Homo sapiens: one gene and its partners. The protein of the gene in region 1 purifies or fractionates together with the protein of each later gene. This does not show direct contact. Each region holds a gene or a part of one and is shown on either strand. Other genes may lie near its edges.

What was found. The genes of interacting proteins can lie anywhere in the genome.
Region 2: the proteins of FOSL1 (region 1) and DNMBP purify together in Homo sapiens (co-immunoprecipitation; 2 studies listed by BioGRID and IntAct, with this or other methods). This does not show direct contact.
Region 3: the proteins of FOSL1 (region 1) and ATF7 purify together in Homo sapiens (co-immunoprecipitation; 2 studies listed by BioGRID and IntAct, with this or other methods). This does not show direct contact.

Annotation. Positions count from the first base shown.
Region 1 is NC_000011.10:65,891,539-65,897,403, forward strand, and holds the end of FOSL1 (fos-related antigen 1), read right to left. Parts: intron 5,469-5,865; coding exon 5,271-5,468; intron 2,584-5,270; coding exon 2,476-2,583; intron 1,759-2,475; coding exon 1,348-1,758; 3' UTR 511-1,347; downstream 1-510.
Region 2 is NC_000010.11:99,999,938-100,006,962, reverse strand, and holds part of DNMBP (dynamin-binding protein), read left to right. Parts: exon of another isoform or gene 1-726; intron 727-3,939; exon of another isoform or gene 3,940-4,021; intron 4,022-7,025. UniProt on the Homo sapiens protein: Plays a critical role as a guanine nucleotide exchange factor (GEF) for CDC42 in several intracellular processes associated with the actin and microtubule cytoskeleton.
Region 3 is NC_000012.12:53,623,373-53,630,920, forward strand, and holds the start of ATF7 (cyclic AMP-dependent transcription factor ATF-7), read right to left. Parts: upstream 3,011-7,548; 5' UTR 2,907-3,010; intron 2,625-2,906; exon of another isoform or gene 1,274-2,624; intron 1-1,273. UniProt on the Homo sapiens protein: Stress-responsive chromatin regulator that plays a role in various biological processes including innate immunological memory, adipocyte differentiation or telomerase regulation.

The DNA.
Region 1 (5,865 bases):
CTCGCTCTTGCTGGCAGGGCAGCAGGGGGACTGAAGGCTGGAGCGGAGGGACTTGCTGGGGGTTGGATTGGGGGTAATAAACCCGGACGGAAGCGGAGCCCACGGCCTGGGCAGCGTCTGTTTGGTACTCGCCGGGGTTGGGGCGAGGGTGGGGTGCTGATACAGGGTACAATTCCCATCCAGAAGGACTGCAGAACTAATGATTCCCCCATTACTTCGAGCCTGGGGTGGGATGCGGGGCAGTGGTAAACCAGACTTCCCCCATCGGGCGCCGGGACCGGCCTTAATCCAGCCCCTGAAGTGGCTCCAGCTCCCTTCCCGGCTCCTTCCTGTCCAAGACAATGGGGCAGGAAGCAGGTGCTGGGGGCCTAGAACCACTCGGCCGCCTCCTCTGAGGCTGGAAGGGGGCATAACAGCGCCCCTCCGTGGCACACGCAGCAGCACTGTGGGCCCCCACGGGGAGAGGGGCGGTAAGCCTCTTCGCTTTTACCCCAGAGGACTGTCTCCCCTCAGTCCCGGAGATGAGGCCGAGCGGATGTAGCCCCACTTGTCAGATAAGACAAAGTCCAAAAATATCAAAGAATTTGTCCAAGGTCATGCAGTGAGTCTGTAGAGCTAAGGCTGGGACCTAGGGCTCCAAATACTCTCCCATTGGCCTCTGGGTCCAGTGAGGCACTCAGGCCACAGCTTCAAGCCTTTTATTCCATTTTGGTAGGTTTGTATAAAAATACTCTCTTTAGGAAAATAAATAGCAGCTGCCCTCGCTGTGGAGGCTTGGATTCCCTGGAGCTGAAGGCTTCTCAAAGCTGAGATCCGCAGATCAGCTCATCACAGAAGCCAAGGGCGCCTCCTGAGCTGTGCGGTTCAGGAGGGGGCGGCAGAATGGCCTGGTCCAATCACCTGCTGCTGCTGGCAGTGGGGCTGGTGAGTTAGTGTTCTAGGTGGGTAAAGTGGCACCTTCTGTCAGGAGATAGGGTTGGGTGGATCACAGGAAGAGGGTGATGGAGAGTGTGGCAGTGATCTGGAAGGGGTTAGGGCTCCAGAGGACCTCTAAGGATCTACAAAGTCTCTGGGCTGCCAGGATTCCTCTGGCACAAATGGGAAATATTTTGTCTCTGATTTAGTGCAAATTGTGCTAGAGAGGCCAGCTCAAGAGAAACAGTGGGCAGCTTTGGTGGCCCCAAGCTGGCTCTACTGTGAAGCACAATATGGTCAGTCTCATTAGAGGGATGGAGAAGAAGTTGCTGGAGTTGGATGTGGGATACTGTCCAGGCCAGCTGGACCGGTGGGGGAAGGGGAGGAGACATTGGCTAGGGTGGCATCTGCAGGGAGTAGGGCTCAGGCGCCTCACAAAGCGAGGAGGGTTGGAGAGCCAAGGGGGTCAGAGGATGGGTCTCCGCTGCTGCTGCTACTCTTGCGATGAGCTGAGGCACAAGGCTCAGGAGTGCTGGGGTAGGTGAAGACCAGGCTGGGGGTGAAAGGAGTTAGGGAGGGTGTGGTCATGAGTGTGGGGGTGTGCAGTGCCTCAGGTTCAAGCACAGGCCCTGGGGAAAGGGAGATACAAGGTACAGGGCGGCAGGGGGCTGGTGGGCTGCTGGTGCCACTGGTACTGCCTGTGTCCCCCTCCTTGGCTCCTTCCGGGATTTTGCAGATGGGTCGGTGGGCTTCCAGCACCAGCTCTAGGCGCTCCTTCTGCTTCTGCAGCTCCTCAATCTCTCGCTGCAGCCCAGATTTCTCATCTTCCAGTTTGTCAGTCTCCTGTAGAAGATCAGGAGAGGAGTCAGAAAGGTGAGGGCTGAATACCCCAGAGCCGCAGACGTTTGGACTCAGGGTTCTGAGGAGCTGGGGTTGGGCGGGGGGAGAGGGGGGGCAGTGGAGAGTCCCCAGCAAGTCTGGACTACAACTCCCATAAGCCCCTGGGAGAAAATGGGCACAACTCCCATCAGGCCCAGACGTTTTAGGAGATTGCTGGCACCAGGCAGTGACTCCGGCCTGTAATCCCAGCACTTTGGGAGGCTGAGGCGGGCGGATCACTTGAGACCAGGAGTTTGAGACCAGCCTGGCTAACTTGGCGAAACCCCGTCTCTACTAAAAATACAAAAATTAGTCGGGTAGGGAGGCAGGCGCCTGTAGCCCCAGGTACTCAGCAGGCTGAGGCATAAGAATTGCTGGAGCCTGGGAGACAGATGTCACAGTGAGCCATGAGCCGAGATCTCATCACTGCACTCCAGCCTGGGTGACAGAGCGAGACTCTGTCTCAAAAAAAAAAGGAGATTGCTGGCTGAGCTTCAGCTCTGCTGTGAGTGAGACATGCTGCAGCCAGTTTCTAATCAATTTTTCCTCATCATTTTCCCAGAAGGACTGCCCCTCAGACAAGGAGCTAGGATGGTGAGGAGGGGGCTACATATACTGGGGCTCTGGGGGCTCTGGGAGACAGGGTCCCTCTGAGCTCGGTGGACCAGGGCTGGTGCTCACCGCCTGCAGGAAGTCGGTCAGTTCCTTCCTCCGGTTCCTGCACTTGGCCGCAGCCAGCTTGTTCCGCTCGCGCCTTACTCGGCGGCGCTCCTCTTCCTCCGGGCTGATCTGGGGGTGAGACCCGCAGTGAGGAGGACCCTGGGCTACTGGCTGCCTGGAACTCGCCCCTCATGGTGGCCCAGTGGTAGGACCCTGGCAGAGGTCATGGCAGGGCCCCCTCAGCCGGTGATTTAGGGATCACTGCACCCAACCAGTTCCCTGCACTGAGGCGCTGTCTGCTTTGATTGGTAAAATTTCCTCCTCGCACCTAGCTTTAGTGCACATTCCTCTCCCATAATGCCCTCCCCCTCCGCAAACCCTAACCCTCCTCATCTCCCAGGACTCAACTAAGATGCTCCTGCCTCCAGGAAGCCGTCTTATTCCCCAGCCAGAAGTGACCTTTCCTTCTCAGCACCCTCTTTGCAGGACCCTCATCCTTCTGGATCTGTGGACAACCAAGTCTCCTCTTCCATGAGCTGTAAGCACTAGGAGGGGCTAATGAGTGCTGCTGATTAAGTTGCAATTTATTGGAAAACTACTATGTGCCAGCCAAGTACTTTACGTAGATTCTTGTTTTTCACTGAGAACATGCAAAGATTTTATTTTATTTTATTTTATTTTTTTTAGACAGAGTCTCACTCTTTCCCAGGCTGGAGTGCATTGGCCCAATCTTGGCTCACTGCAACCTCCACCTACTGGGTTCAAGTGATTCTCGTGCCTCAGCCTCCCAAGTAGCTGGGATTACAGGCATGTACCACCACACCTGGCTAATTTTTGTATTTTTAGTAGAGACGAGGTTTCACCATGTTGGCCAGGCTGGTCTTGAACTCTTAACCTCAGGTGATCCACCCTCCTCAGCCTCCCAAAGTGCTGGGATTACAGGCATGAGCCACTGTGCTCGGCCTTTTTTTTTCTTTTTTTTTTTTGTGTAGTGACGGGGTCTCACTGTGTTGCCCAGGCTGGTCTGGAACTCATGGGCTCAAGGGATCCTCCTGCACTGGCCTCCTAGAATGTTTGGATTACCAGGGGGAGTCACCACAGCTGGCCTCTTTTTTAAAAAAACATAGATTCTTTTTTTTTTTTTTTTTTGAGACGGAGTCTCACTCTGTTGCCCAGGCTGGAGTGCAGTGGTGCCATCTCGGCTCACTGCAAGCTCCGCCTCCGGGGTTCACGCCATTCTCCTGCCTCAGCCTCCCGAGTAGCTGCGACTACAGGTGCCTTCCACCACGCCCAGCTAATTTTTTGTATTTTTTAGTAGAGACACGGTTTCATCATGTTAGCCAGGATGGTCTCGATCTCCTGACCTCATGATCCACCTTCCTTGGCCTCCCAAAGTGCTGGGATTACAGGCGTGAGCCACCATGCCTGGCCTTAAACTAGATTCTTAACGCAACTTTCCATGAAAAACTGAAGCCCAGAGAGGATAACTTACTTATGGTTCCAGAGCAGGACTTAGAACCCATAGAACTCACTCACTCTATTCCACATTGAGTGACAGGCCAGATGAGAGAGACCATTTCACCAAAAGGATCCAACTCACAGCTCACAGCCCTACCTGGAGAACCCAGGATCAAAGGGTCACCCTCAGGACCAGGCTGAAGGAAGGACGCACAGGAGGGTTTACCCCTGGCCCGCTTCTGCGGCTCATACCACAGTCCCTCCTCACCACAAAGGCCAGACATTCTGTTCTGGGAAACCTGTCTCTGGCTGATCTCTCACCTTTCCCAGGGCCCTAACCTCTCTCCCCATCCTCTACCTGCCGACCAAGCTTTTTAACCTCATCCCCTGTAGTCTCCCACACCAAAATGCCCCAGGGAGAGGAAAGATGAGCCACTCCTTTAAAGACTCGCCATCTCTTACTCACTTATTTTGGTAAGGGCTTTGGGGAGCCAAGAATTGTCAGTTCCCTCTACTTTGAGCCTTCTGTTAGCTTCCAGTGAGACAGCGTGGCTTGGTGATTAGTTTTGGGGGTTTTATTTTATTTTGTTTTTTCGGTAGAGACAGGGTCTCTCTATGTTGCCCAACCTAGTCTTGAACTCCTGGCCTCAAGTGATCCTCCTGCCTAGGTCTCTCAAAGTGCTGGGATTACAGGCATGAGCTACTGCACCTGGCCCTGGTTTGGTGGTTAGGATCTGACTTTAGAGTTGTATAGACCTGGGGCCAAGGCCAGTCCTGTGTCATTACTCACTACTTGTGTGATCTTGGGCAAGTGACTACCCTTCTGTGCCTTCATTTCTTTGGTGGAAGATGGGGAAAACCAGAGTACATTCCCCAGAGAGATTTTGTGAGGATTAAATGAGACAGGGAAACTGAGACTGAGGGAGTAGCTGAAGGGAACCCTCTTGTTCCTGTTCTCTCCCAGACAACATAAGCGCCCCCTCTATGCATGTCAGCAGGTGGAGACCCCCTCACCATTCCGTGTGCGCACCTTACATGTTCTTGCCTCCGCCTCCATCCTTGCTCCTGCCACCCCCGCTACCTGGAATGTCCTTTCCTTCCTCTCTGCCTCTGCCAGTCCTACCCATCCTTCTAGGCTAATATGCCACCTTTTCCAGGAAGCTTTCCCTGATCTGGAAGTGACTGTTGTACCCTCTGGGCCTCCCGTGGGGCTCCTATCACTTTCAGCCTTGGGCAGTAGTCACCTGTAGCCTACCTTACCCCCTCCTAAGCCTGTGCTCTCCTTTCTGGCAGGAGCTTCTCTGCACCCTAGCACTCCTGGGCGGGGTCGGAACCACTGCAATGCCTCTGTGCCTTACCTGTTCACAAGGCCTTCGACGTACCCCTGGAGGCGGCCCCAGGGCCCGGATGACTCCTGGCCGGGGTTGTGGGGGGCTGTACTGAGGGTAGGTCAGAGGCCTGGGGTAACTGCTGGGCCCCAGGAAATGAGGCTGTACCATCCACTGCAGCTCCTGACTGCCACTCATGGTGTTGATGCTTGGCACCAGGTGGAACTTCTAAGGAATAAGAAATGGAAGGCCACAGATGAGGTCCGTGTGGATTGAGGGGCTTCCACTGGGCAGAGGCTACACTGCTGTCTACCTTCAATGTACAGGCTAGCTCTGGGAACAGAAAGAGCACAGCTTGGCAGTCAGAGACTGACCTGGTGGCAAATCCCTGCTCATAAGCTGTGTGGCTTTGGGGCAGGTCACATAACCTCTCTGTGCCCCCATTTCCCCATTAGAACTAACATTTATAAAGCACAAACTGCCAGGAACTGTTCTAACCACTTTACAAATACTGACTCATATCATTGGCACAGTAATATCTTCATTTTCTTTTCTTTCTTTTTTTTCTTTTTTTTTTTTCAGATGGAGTCTCACTCTGTTGCCCAGGCTGGAGTGTAGTGGCACG
Region 2 (7,025 bases), on another chromosome or scaffold:
TTTGTATTTTTAGTAGACGCGGGGTTTCACTATGTCGCTCAGGCTGGTCTGGAACTCCTGGCCTCAAGCGATCCACCCACCTTGGCCTCCCAAAGTGCTGGGATTACAGGCATGGGCCACCACACCTGGCCTAACTCATGGTGGGAGACTGGAAGGAAATGAGGAAGTGAGCAGGAGGCAGTGGGATGAGCATGTTCCAAACCCTGGTGCAGGAGCATGCTTGGCATGTTAGGGGTGGCAAGGTCATGGTGGCCAGTCAGTGTGGATGTGGGTTGGGGGGAGGTGGCAGCAGATGAGAGGGGGTGGGAGTGGGGAGGACACATCAGTGTAGGTCATTGTAAGGATTTTGGCCTTTACACTGAGTGAGGGGGAAGCCGTTGGAGAGCTTTGAACAGTGAAGTTGATGATGACTTATGTTTTAAAAGGATAACTGGCTGCTGGGTTGAGAATAGACAGGAAGAGGACAAGGGCTGAGTCAGGGAGACCTTTTCAAGCTAGAGCTGTGTGACTCACACCATAATTCTTCCCTGAGTCTTCGTTTCCTCATCTGTAAAATAACTGGGCCCTCTCTAGCTCAAGAATTTTAAGTTTTCAAGTAGTGCAGGGTATTATTTCTACAGGGAGGCAAGAGGATTGCGTGGGAAGAGGTTCTGAAAGTAAATCGCTTCAGATGACCTGAAAACTTGACACCAACCTGCCTGTAGCTGAATCATCCCAAATCAAGAGGTAATCAGGTCTTTTTCAGTCAGATTGTCAGGTCATGAGAACAAAAACACTGTTTCGTAAATATTCTCTGCTCATCCCTTTTGTACTTTGCTGATCCCTGAATTTTCCCTTCCTGATTGAAAAAGGATGAAAAGCTGTTACTCATCAACAGAACTGGCAACCAGAGTAGCTTTTGTTGTTTGGAAAATTGGGAACTTTGGGGAAGGAAACAATTCTGTGTTTATCGTAGGTCATAAGAGTTTTTCTTTTATAACACGCAAGGAATCTAAAAGATTGGTTTTGTTGTAGAATTCCCTTGTCCCATTCATCTCATGTCTCACAGGTGTTCATTCTTAATGCATTGCATGTGCTTCCTTTTGTTTATGTAGGAGCTTGCAAAGTGGGAATGTTTGTTTTATGTGTATGTATCTTGATTTATAATGCTGTAATTCATTTTCCTTTATGTAGTTTGGTTTTTTTTTTTTTTTTTTTTGGAGACTTTTGAGACAAGAGTCTCACTCTGTTGCCCAGGCTGGAGTACAGTGGCGAGATCTCGGCTCACTGCAGCCTCCGCCTCCCGGGTTCAAGCCATTTCCTGCCTCAGCCTCTTGAGTAGCTGGAATTACAGTCATGCGCCACCACGCCCAGCTAATTTTTTTGTATTTTAGTAGAGACGGGGTTTCACCATGTTGGCCAGGCTGGTCTCGAACTCCTGACCTCAGGTGATCCGCCTGCCTTGGCCTCCCAAAGTACTGGGATTACAGGTATGAACCACCATGCCAGGTCTCTGAGTAGTGTTTTTAAGATCCATCCATATTGTTATGTGTCTAATTCTCTGCTTTGGAATGCTGCATTTATACCCCATGCTGTTTGCATCCATTGGTTTTGCTTTATCTGCTCTCTGTGTAGTGAGTGGTTACTCAAGTTGTTCCTACCCCCTAACACCATAAATATTGCTGCAGTGAACATCTTCCTACATGTCTCCTTACAAAGCTGTATAATATTTCTGTGGAATTGCTGGATTATAGGCTTGCAGAGACTGAATTTGATTAAATAGTGCCAGATGCCTCTCCACAGTGGCTGCCCCAGTCTCTGTGCCTCTGGAAGTATTAATATTTGAGGACTCCTGTATCCTCATGTCCCACCAGCACTCGCCTCTTTCCAGCTATCCATGGTTTTCAATCTCGTAAGCACAAAGTGATATCTTGTCGTTTTAATTTATATTTCTTTGATGACTAGAGATTTTGAGTATCTCTTATACAGATAGCTTCCTCTGTAAATTGCTTATTCATGTCTTTGGCATTTTCTGTTGGAGTTGATATCTATTTTGTTGCTGTTGACTTGCAGAAATGATTTTATAATATAGGTATTTATTCCCTGTTATGTTTAGACTTTGCAGATGTCTTCTCATTTGGGCATCTTGACATCTGTTGATCAAATCTTCTCATTTAGTTCTCGTTTTGTCTTTGCCATCCTTTGATCAAGAAATATTTTTAATTTTGATGTAATCAAATAGATAAATTCTTTGACTTGCGGTTTATGTTTTTGGAGTTTTGTTTAAGGAACTCTTCCTGAACCCTAGGTCATGTCTGTGACTTTCATCTCTCTAGGGCCCGCATTTTCATGTGTTAGATAGGAATCCAGCCCTATTTTTCTCCATTTAATGACCCAGTTTTTCTAATAACATGTCAACAAAATCCATGCTTTCCTCTATGAAATTATGGTATCTCTTTCTCATTTGTGGTTTCCATGGATACACTTGTCTGGCCCTAAGCATTTATTTTGTTCCATTAGTCTGTCAGTTCTTACTTCATTTTTTTAATTGCTCTAATTTTATTACAGTGACTTTGTAGTATGTCCTAATGACTGGCACAGCAAGCCATTCATCTTAAAGTTTATTTAGCTCTTCCTGGACCAAAATTTATTTTTTCCATATAAAATTTGGAATAAGTTTACCAGGCTACCCAAACATTATATATACATATATATTTATATATATATATTTTTTCTTTTGAGACCTTGTGTCACTCTGTTACCCAGGCTGGAGTGCAGTGGCACCATCACGGCTCACTGCAGCCTCAACCTCCCAGGCTCAAGTGATCCTCCCATTCTAGCCTCCCAAGTAGCTGAGACCACAGGCATGTGCCACCATCCCTGGCTAATTTTTCTTTTTTTTTTTTGTAATTTTTTTAGAGATAGGGACGCCCTTTGTTGTCCAGGCCGGTCTTGAACTCCCGGGCTCCAGCAATCTTCCTGCCTTGGCCTCCCAAAGTGCTTGGATTACAGGCATGAGCCACTGTGCCTGGCCAAAAAATTATATTTTTGAGGAATTTTTATTGGAGTTTATTGAGTTTATAAATTATTTGAGGAGGGTTAACATCTTATTTTATTTATTTATTTATTTTTTATGTGCCATGTTGCTTTTTTATTTTTTATTTTTCTTTTTAAGACAGGGTCTCCCTCTGTTGCCCAGGCTGGAGTACAGTGGTGCGATGATAGCTCACTGCAGCCACCACACCCAGCTAAATATTTTTATAAGTTTTTTGTTGTTGTTGTTGTTGTTTTAATAGAGATGAGGTCTCACTCTGTTGCCCTGGCTGGGCCCTGGCCAGTAACTCCTGGCCTCAAATGGTCTTCCCACCTCAAAGTGTGCTGGGATTACAAGTGTGAGCCACTGAAATAGTAACTCATTCCATCCAAGAGCATATAATGTGTCTTTCCGTTTATTCAGCTCATTTTTCTGACATTTTTATAATTTTGGAAATAATTTAAAGCTAACAGAAGAGTGCTAAGAGTATGTTTTCTTTGTGTGCTTTTTCCCCTGACCCCTTTAATTGTAGACATCATGTCCCTTTAATCTCTAAATACATGCTTCATCAGTTCTTTTTGTTTGTTTGTTTGTTTTTCTTTTGGAATGGAGTCTCGCTCTGTCGCCCAGGCTGGAGTGCAGTGGCTCGATCTCTGCTCACTGTAACCTCCGCCTCCCAGGTTCAAGCAATTCTCCTGCCTCAGCCTCCTGAGTAGCTGGGGCTACCGGTGTGTGCCACCACGCCTGGCTAATTTTTTTGTATTTTTGGTAAAGATGGGGTTTTACCATGATAGCCAGGATGGTCTCAATGTGACCTTGTGATCCACGTGCCTTGGCCTCCCAAAGTGCTGGGATTACAGGCCTGAGCCACCGTGCCCAGCCCTTTCCCATTCTTATACTTCTTATTCATTTTTCTTTCCTTACAGCATTGGCCAGGACTACTAGAACTGTGTCAAAACAGCTGCTACACTAACGGGCATCTTTGTCTTGTTCTCAGTCTTAAAAAGAGTGAGTCTAAAGATTTCCTATTTCATATAATGTTTGTTTTAGGTTTTGTATGTTACCTTTATCAAGTTTTAAGGTATTACCCTCAATCCTAGTTTACTGAGAGTTTTCATCATAAATAGGTATTAAGCCTTACCAAGTACTTTTTCAGGATCTGTCCTTGAGGAAATAAGATGGCATCAGGAAGGCTGTATACCAAAATCCTAACCCTATGCTGACTTTGTTTCAAGCAGAAGATATTTATTAACCCTACATATATAATTTGTGGAAAGCATCTCAAGATTCCAATACAAGTTTATTTCACCATTAGGTCAGCTTTTTCCTCCTGGCATTACGAGTCAGAATTTAAATAGCTGATGTGAAAAATGAGAGAAAGAGCCATACTCAGGATGATAAGTTTTGTTGTCAGCATGATTGTAAATATAAGATATGTAAAATTATAGTTTCCTTACTCTGTGGATCGGTCTTTACTTCAGGCATAAATCTTACTAAATTATATCTCAAGAAATATTGAGGTGGCTCGTCAGTAGAGCCATAGATAGCTGTTTAGCAGCACTAACTGCTAGGGTGTTGGGCAGTGAATTCTCATGGCCAGCTCTTCTCTCTCTTTCTTTTTCTTTCTTTTTAGACTAGCCATTTTTTTTCCTAATTGTGAAATTATACCTCTTTATTACAGAGCATCTGTAAAATATAGAAAAGCGAATCTATAATCCTGCCTTTTAGCACCAACCCCTGCTAAAACGTTGGTTATTTCTCTGTCTCTGTTTTTTATTGGGGTGGGGGAGCATGTTGAGGAGGAGAGGGCACTTAACATTGCACTATATCATTTTCTATCACCCCTCCTTTTTCAGGGCTAGATCATTAACTCATGTTCATTTTGCTTTGATTGGCTCTCTGGGGAAAAATCGATAGAAAACTTACAATTAACTTGTAGCAGTGGGGTGATAGCTTGCTCCTCTCTTGGAACAGTTTATGCCTGAGGGAGCCTCCGTGCACAAACAGCCCAGAGTCATTGTCAGAACTTGGAGCAATCCTAGCCCTAAGCCCAACAGACCAAAAACTAGCTTAAGGGTGTGGAGGGGAGAAGTACTTTTGAGGTCTCTTTGCTTCAGTTCAGTCCTCCCAGGTTGTCACCTTCCTTATCTAGACCACACTTGCTTTAATCTTTCAGAAAATAAATAGAATGGAGAAAATAGTCATTTATTTTCTTTTGACTCTGAAAACCTAGCACAGGCCACGTACGGTGGCTCACACCTGTAATCCCGGCACTTTGGTAGGCCAAGGCGGGCGGATCACTTGAGCTCAGGAGTTCAAGACCAGCCTGGACAACATGGCCAAACCCCATCACTACCAAAAAATACAAAAACTAGCCGGGCATGGTGGCATGTGCCTGTAGTCCTAGCGACTCAGGATGCTGAGGTGGGAGAATTGCTTGAACCTGGGAGGTGGAGGTTGCAGTGAGTTGTGCTTGCACCACTGCACTCCAGCCTGGGCAACAGAGTGAGACCCTGTCTCAAAAAAAAAAAAAAAACAACAACAACAAAACCCCATCACAATTGTTTTGTTTCCCTAATCACTTTTTGCTAGTGTGGAAGTGACAGAATTCATAGGTGAACATCCCTATGGTGAGGAGATTCAATGTCTACCTGCCTTCCTTTCTCACTCTCTATCCTTTTTTTTTTTTTTTTTTTTTTTTTTTTTTTTTTTTTTTAATGAGACGGAGTCTTGCTCTGTCCTCCAGGCTGGAGTGCAGTGGTGCCATCTCGGCTCACTGCAACCTCCACCTCCTGGGTTCAAGCAATTCTCCTGCCTTAGCCTCCCGAGTAGCTGGGATTACAGGCACGCACCACCACACCTGGCTAATTTTTGTATTCTTTAGTAGAGATGGAGTTTCCCCATGTTGGCCAGGCTGGTCTTGAACTCCTCCCTCGTGATCTGCCCGCCTCGGCCTCCCAAAGTGCTGGGATTACAGGCGTGAGCCACCGTGCCCGGCTCTTTTTTCCCCCAGTGTCCTTTGGTGTTGAAACTGAAATTCCCCATTCCTGTACCCTGCTGGGTTTTTTTTTTTTTTTTTTTTTTTTTTTTGCCATAACAGGTGTCACTTTCTAAAACACAATGGTCTGCCTTCCCAATTCCTCAAGGAGAAAATTCTTCAAGGGCAGGAATCTTTGTTTTGTTCCCTGTTCATAACCCAAGCCCACCTCGAACAGTGCCTGGTACCTGATGTGCCCTCAACAGATGAATCTATAAGATGAATCAACCTGTAAAGAAGCCACACTGTGATCCAGAGAAGGGTCATCTAAGGGAGGGGTGAGAGAAGAAAGCTCTCTTAGCTTCCTTTCAATGCATAGGTTCAGCAGGCTAGTAGAATCCCCATTTTTGTCTTTGACATTGCAAATGAAACCATCCACCCAGACACAGAGAAATTAGCTCTCTGCATCTGTTCTAGCCCCTCCTGCGGAGGCTGCATTTTCCCGAAAGTAGCATGTGAATGTTTGTGTTGCTGACAAACACATGGACTGGGAGAGAATAATCAGCACTGACATTCTAGCTGTGGGTCTGGGCCCAGAGTGCATTCTGCATTGTTTTCATGAGGTGATTCTCTTAGGATAAATGAGCCTGCCCCATCAGCAGAAAATGTTGCAATGGATGTGCCGAGTTATGCTTACCTCCCCAGCCTCACACCCCAGGTCCTCCTGCTTTCTAGTTGGTTCTTTCCTCCCCTCCCCTGCAATGTGGAAACTTTTTAGCTTTTCTGTCATTTCCGAACAATAAGTATTCTGAACGGTAAGTATTCTAATCTGGTTCAGAATTGTTACGATGAACAGTTATGCCTTGCATACCTGGTCACTGTTTTCTAAAGCAAGTCTTCAAATTATATTAATAGCACTATATAAAATGCTAAAAAATTAAAAAGCTGCCACAAATACACCATAATGGTGTTCTTGAGGCCAGTGTCACACACCCAGTCTATCCTGTAGAGGCCATTGCTTGGCTCATATTCCTG
Region 3 (7,548 bases), on another chromosome or scaffold:
TTTTAAAGAGACAGAAGACTTTTTCATGAACTCCAAAATCGTAGGACCATTTTCTGAGAAACCAACAACAAAAGAAATGAATGCTTTTTCCTTTTAAATGAATGCTGCATTTGTTTTTCTCAAAGAAACACCTGTACCTTAACTTTAGTACTTTTATTAAGGGATAAGGGACAATTATATACCAGTATGCTAACTAGTCTCAAGAAAAGAGCTAGCTTTATTAGACATTTACGTGGAGTTCTATCTGTTCCACCTAAAACTTCCTTGCAAGGAGAAGGCTCCTCCTTATCAGACGTGGATAGGAGGCTGCTGTAACACTAACTCCCTCCCACTGTAGCCTAGGAAAAACTCGGTCTTGACATGCACAAAACAATAACTTCTGAGAACTTCAGAGCAGCTGTGTTCAGACAGAGCCAGTGACTTTACTCCAGGCAAAGAAGTAGTTTAAGAGTTGGTTGAAAAAACAATTTTCATTTTGGGTTGGAAATGAGGAAAGGAAAGAGAACAAGATACAGTAAGTAGAGCTATTAACATTTTAAAACCGTGGTAAACAAACGTGTTTAAAAATTACAACACTGAAACTACCACAGGGTGTAAACTTTGATCCACAAGTTGAAAGATGAGCAGTGTTATCACTCTAGCTTTCTGCTAGATGGTAGCACTAGTGAGAAAAAAAAAATCTTGGGTTTAATAGTGCCCTAGTCAAAGCAATCACCAATTCTAGGGCAGAAGACCAAAACAAGGGACTCTGCTCTCTCACTGGGTAATTTTCTGTACTGCTGCCAGGCAAACTGGAAATGTTCTGAATGTCCAATAGCAATGCACTTACTGTGAAATACTAGAACCCAGCTCAGTAGTTAATGCTAACGGGTCAGCAATGAATTGGTCTCAATGTGCTATAGGGGCAACTTCTTGGCCAGGGAGAAAGGCTTCAGCTGATTGCAGAAAACCAAAGGTTAATACAACTACGTACTCTGGTTTCTCTTCATGTAATAGCTTTACTGATATTTCAGACATTATTTCCCTTCTCAAAAGTAAAAGGAGAAGAGAAGGAATGTAAAAGCAAAATCTACGCAAGAGCAAAGAAGTTATTAATTGGCTATATTAGTCCAATTCGTTATTAAATGATACACAACTATCAAACAAAGGGCAAAGCCCTGTCCCTTTTCTGTACAGAATTAAGAACTGGTAAGACTACTTAGCAGAGCTTGCAAACTTTTCTTTAGCTTCTTTTCTTACAGACATGTTACATTTCGCAAGAGCCTCCACTTACCTTACAACTTCCATGTGTAAGTACAAATTGTGTTTGATTTCCCCAGCCCTTGGCCTAAGATATTATGACATAGCTTTAGTTTCTGAGTCTGGACACAAAGGAAAAAACTGAACATTTTTCACTTTCCTGAAATAACATGTCTATTTTATTTACACTATTTAAAAACACATTATGTAAGTTAACTAAAACAAACTGCAACCACCCATTCGACAACTCTTCGAGAATGACTGGGGAAGCCACATTTAACAAAACAAACTTCATTTTAGTATATTTCTGCTTAGAATGCCCATAAAGACTGATATCGCTACAAGAATTACACTACTGCAAAATTTTTAAACACAGGACTCATGTGAGCTTGCTGAGAAAACTCTGCACACCCCCTACACACCTGTACTTAATATGACATGACCCTCAGAGATACTAAAACACCCTCTGTTAAGCAGAAAACAAACTTTTAAAGTTAGGAAAGTAGCAACGCGGGAATCTGGGTAGGAGGTGCCCTGGGTTGTAAACACCCCAGTCAGAGAACATAACAAGCAATTCAGAGCAACATATTAAGTCCCTATGGGGCTCCAACTTGGACTGCTTAAGTCCCAAGACCACATCCTGGTGTCTGGGAAGAGTTTGGGTAATAGAAGAGAGGGAGAAGGAAAATCAGAGAAGCGATGAAAGCGTTCTATTTTTCTCCTTCTCAACCCCCATCCCAGCATCTTGGAGGCTGGTCACCAGTCTGGGTGCCATATCCACCAGAAGCCCTAAATCAATATCCCAACCACCTGATACCTAGGCTAAAGACATGTGTATATCAGCCATCTCCTTCCCAAACACCTCTTATCGCTCTCAAGGCTCATATCCTTCCAGAAGCCATGCCTTATGGCGACTCAGCTCACCCATACTGTCCTCTTAAATTAATTCACTTAATTTTCTCCAAATCCATACTTTCTCTCTGATATCATGTCCCTGATGTTCTTTTAATTAATTCAATCAAAATGCCATGACCCTCATTTCCAATAATCCACCCCATCTATCTTTTCTGCCAAACCCAACGGGGTGTTGTGTCACCAGATCAAGATCTTTGTTCTCATCTACTCATTCCTACCTCCTTCCTATTACCCTTTTCCAATTCCAAGCTCCTAATCCCACTCTTTGGGAAGCCCTGGGTTTCTAACTTAGTTTAGTATCCCTCCTCTTTCTCCCATTCCACCCCATCCCATGATCCTTCCATTAGGCTCCACTAGACTACCCTTCCCTCAGGATTCAATTCCCCTCTCCTTGCCACGCCCTGTGCCCCCCGGGGCTACTTACACCAAGTTCTCCCCACACTTCAAGCCTCTGGCCCCGCCTTCCCCCCAAAGGAAGGAGGCGGGAGTAGGGAGAGAAGGGCGGCGCTCGGCAACGTAAAAGCGATCTCCCATTAGCGCTCATCGCCGCCAATCGAGGCTTCCTTCTCTCCCATTGGTCGGCTTTGGCCTATGCCCCACCCTCTTCCTCAGACAGGGCCCGGCCACCGCCTCAGCGCCCCCGTCCAACACAGACTGGGAGGGGAGACCCCAGCCTGGAACGCTGGGACTGGCCAGAGTTGAAAGGGAGACTCCCGTCAGATCATGGACTAGCTAATGTTAAAAGGACTTACCGGCTGGTAGCTCCGTTGCCTCCCGCCTGCCCGCGCTCGGTCCTACAATCTGTCTCCAGCTCCTCCTTTCCCCCCTTGGCGGAACGGATACTTTCCTCCCGTCCGGCCAGGCGCGCTCAACTCTCGCGAGAAGTCATGGGTCCGCGGGGGAAGGGCGAGATCCGTGGGGGCTGAGTTGGAAAGCGGCCGAGAGGCGGGGGCTCCGGGAAAAGAAGGGGCCGGGCTTACTGTGGGCAGGGCTGGGGAGGGAGACTGAGCGAGTACTGTCCACACAGGTCACACGTGTTCGGCTGCAGAATCTAGCGGGAGAAAGAAAGGAAAAAGGAGAGAGGATCTTTACAGGTGCCTGTAGTGGTGGTTACTACTATCTTTCAGAGTCATCGCTTCCTTAACGGCAAAGTAATTTAAAATACCCTTAGCGCTAGAAATGAAGTCCATGTACGGACAAAGCAATCCACCCGCACAGCAATTCTAACACTACCATTTTACTAGCCCTATTGCCTTGGGTGAAAACCTTCTCTGAGTCTCTGTACAATGGGACTAACAATCTCATTTTATTCAAATAGTTGTAATGATCAAATGAGATACATGAAACTGCTTGGGGATTTTTTAAAATCACTATATTATTCAGCAAATATTTTCACAAAACGTAGGGCATACTACATGCAAAGCATTGTTCTGCAGTCGAATGCTCTATCCCTGAGCTATACCCCCCGTGCAAAGCATTGTTCTAAGCATGGGGTTAAGGAGTTACCAACCCAGGTAGAATTTATATTTGAGTGAGGAAGGGGAGACAGTTAAAAAGCCAATAAACACAAATATTTCAAATAGTGAAAAGCGCTTCAGGATAGTGAGACAGAAGGTGACTAGGAGTGGGGAAGAAGCTTTACTCCTAGTGTTTGAGAGAAGACCTCTTTGAGGAAGTAACACACCAGGAGTTGAATTATGACCTGGGAAGATTTCGGGGGAAATATCAAATGCAAAGTCTATAGTCTTACATTTATATGTCTTGTTCAAGACAAACCAGGAAAAGAAAAAAGAAAAACAAAAAACAGGCTGGGTGCAGTGGCTCACGTCTGTAATCCCAACACTGCTAGGCCGAGGCAAGAGGATCGCCTGAGCCCAGGAATTTGAGACCAGCCTGGGCAACATGGCGAAAACTCAGCTCTACGAAAAAATATAAAATTAGCCGGGCATGGTGGCCTGCACCTGTAGTAGCTATTCGGGGGGCTAAGTGGGAAGATCGCTTGAGCCCAGGAGGTTGAGGTGGCAGTGAGCCCACATCAGGCCACTGCACTCCAGCCTGGACAACAGAGTGAAACCCTGTCTCGATAAATAAATAAAATAAATAATTTTCTTAAAATTTAACGAATTGTAGTTGACTTAAAATATTATCTATGGAATCTCTGTTCTCTCCTTTTGCAGCTTTATGTTACTCAGCTTTCTGAACTTTCTGTCTAGCATCTCATCTATCCTCACAGCACCCTCTGAGAGGTAGGAAGAATCTGGGTGATTTCTCCCTAGATACCTAAAATGAAACAGATGTAAAATCTTTCTTTCTTATGTAGTGAATTGAGAAAAGTTGAGAGGAGTCTTGGCTTCCAAACTATTCTCCCCTAAAACAATTCCTACTTAAAAGAATACAGTGATGGAAACATACCTTAAATATATAAGAAAAATTTGTATGTTGGCCGGGCGCAGTGGCTCACGCCTGTAAATCCCAGCTACTCAGGAGGCCGAGGCAAGAGAATCACTTGAACCTGGAAAGCGGAGGTTGCAGTGAGCCAAGATCCCGCCATTGCACTCCAGCCTGGGCAACAACAGCGAAACTCCGTGTCAAAATAAATAAATAAATAAATAAATAAATAAATAAATAAAAATAAAATCAGAGGGAAAAGGATTCTACAAATCGTGGTGGAACAATTGGCTATCGCTGTATACATGCAATAGCTAATATTTATAGATTTTACTATGTTCCAGGTACTATTCTAAATTGATGTTTTTTGTTTGTTTGTTTGTTTTTGTTTTTTGAGACGGAGTCTTGATCTGTCACCAGGCTGGAGTGCAGTGGCACGATCTCAGCTCACTGCAACCTCCACCTCCTGGGTTCAAGCGATTCCCCTGCCTCAGCCTCCCGAGTAGCTGGGACTACAGGCGCACGCCACCACACCCAGCAAATTTTTGTATTTTTAGTAGAGACGGGGTTTCACCATGTTGGCCAGGATGGTCTCAATCTCTTGACCTTGTGATCTGCCCGGCTTGGCCTCCCAAAGAGCTGGGATTACAGGCATGAGCCACTGCGCCCGGCCTTTTTTTTTTTTTTTTTTTGGCAGGGTCTCCCTTTGTTGCCCAGGTTGGAGTGCAGTGGCATGATCACTGCTGACTGCATCCTCGACCTCCCAGACTCAAGCAATCCTCCCAACTCAGCACCCCAAGTAGCCAGGACTACAGGTACATGCTACCATGTCCAGATGATTTTTTAAAATTTTCCAGGCCGGGTGCGGTGGCTCACACCTGTAATCCCAGCACTTTGGGAGGCTGAGGCAGGTGGACCACGAGGTCAGGAGTTCAAGACCAGCTTGGCCAACATGGCAATCCTGTCTCTACTAAAAATACAAAAATTCGCTGGGTATGGTGGTGGGCATCTGTAATCCCAGCTACTTGGGAGGCTGAGGCAGGAGAATTGCTTGAACCCGGGAGGCGGAGGTTGCAGTGAGCTGAGATCATGCCATTGCACTCCAGCCTGGGTGACAGAGTGAGACTGTGACTCAAAAAAAAAAAAATGTCTGTAGACACTAGGTCAGGCTGGTCTTAAACTCCTGGACTCCAGTGATCCTCCCACCTTGGCCCCTCAAAGTGTTGGGATTACAGGCATGTAAAGAGGCCCGGCCTCTTTATTGTTGAGTTATAAGAATTCTTTATATATTCTAGATACTAGATGCTTATCAGATATATGATTTGCAGATATTTTATCTCATTCTGCAGGTTAGTTGTCTTTTCACTTTCTGATAGTGTCCTTTGAAGCTCAAAAGTTTTTTTTTTTTTTTTGAGTTGCCCAGGCTGGAGTGCGGTAACGCAATCTCGGCTCACTGCAAGCTCCACCTTCCGGGTTCATGCCATTCTCCTGCCTCAGCCTCCGGAGTAGCTGGGACTACAGGCACACGCCACCACGCCCAGCTAATTTTTTTGTATTTTTAGTAGAGACGGGGTTTCACCGTGTTAGCTAGGATGGTCTCGATCTCCTGACCTCATGATCCGCCCACCACGGCCTCCCAAAGTGCTGGGATTACAGGCATGAGCCACCGCGCCCGGCCTGAAGCTCAAAAGTTTTATATTTTGATAAAGTCCAATTTATCTTGTTTGTGCTGTTGGTGTCATATCTATATCTAATAAACCATTGCCTAATACAGTATCATAAAGATTTACACGTGTGCTTTCTTCTAAGAATTTTGTTGTTTTTAGCTCCTACATTTAGGTCTTTGATTCATTATGAGATAATTTTGTATATGGTATGAGGTAGAGGTCCAATTTCGTTCTTTTCCATGCACAATTGTCCCAGCACCATTTGTTGGAAAAGATATTATTTCCCTCATTCAATCCTCTTGGCACCCTTGCCAAAACTCATTGGACCTTAAATATATTGGTTTACTTCTGGACTTTCAATGTTATTTCGTTCTTCTATATGTCTGTCCTTATGCCAGTATCAAAAGGCTTGATAATTTTAGCTTTGTAGTAAGTTTTGAAATTAGGAAGTATGAATCCTCCAATTTCGTTCTCTTTTTTCGAGATTGCTTTGGATATACTGGGTCCCTTACATTGCCACATGAATTTTAGGGTCAGCTTGTCAATTTCCACAAAAAAGCCATCTAGGATTTTAATAGGAATTCCCTTGAATCTGTAGATCAAGGAGTATTGCCATCTTAACAATATCGTATTCCAATCCACGGACATCGAATGTCTTAACATTTATTTAAAGCTTCTTAATGTCTTTCAACTGTATTTTTTGTAGGTTTACTTTGTTTTTTATTTTGTATTTTTTTGATTTTTAAATTTTTTTAGAGACGGGATTTCACCATGTTGCCCAGGCTGGTCTCAAACTCCTGGGCAACATGGTGAAACCCCATCTCTAATGGGGTTAGATCCACCCACCTTGGCCTCCCAAAGTGCTGGGATTACAGGTGTGAGCCACCTCACCTGGACTTATTTTGTTTTTTAAGTTAGAGACAGGGTCCCGCTTTGTTGCCTAGGCTGGTGTCAAACTCTTGGTCTCAAGCAGTTCTCCCACCTTGGCCTCCCAACGTGATAGGGTTACAGGCATAAGCCACTGTGCCAAGCTGTGTTTTGTGGTTTTCATTGTACAAATCTTGTGTTTCTCTTGTTAAACTTACTCATATTTTTTATTTTCTTTTTTGAGACGGGTCTCACTTTGTCACTTAGGCTAGAGTGGTGCAATCATAGCTCACTGTAACCTCCAACTTCTGGGCTCAAATGATCCTCCCACCTCAGCATCCTGAGTAGCTAGGACTACAGGTGCATGCCACCATGCCTGGCTAATTTTTTTTTTTTTTTTTTTGCTCTCCTGCCTTGGCCTCTCAAGGTGCTAGGATTACAGATATAAGCCACCATGCCTGGCCTCTTTCTT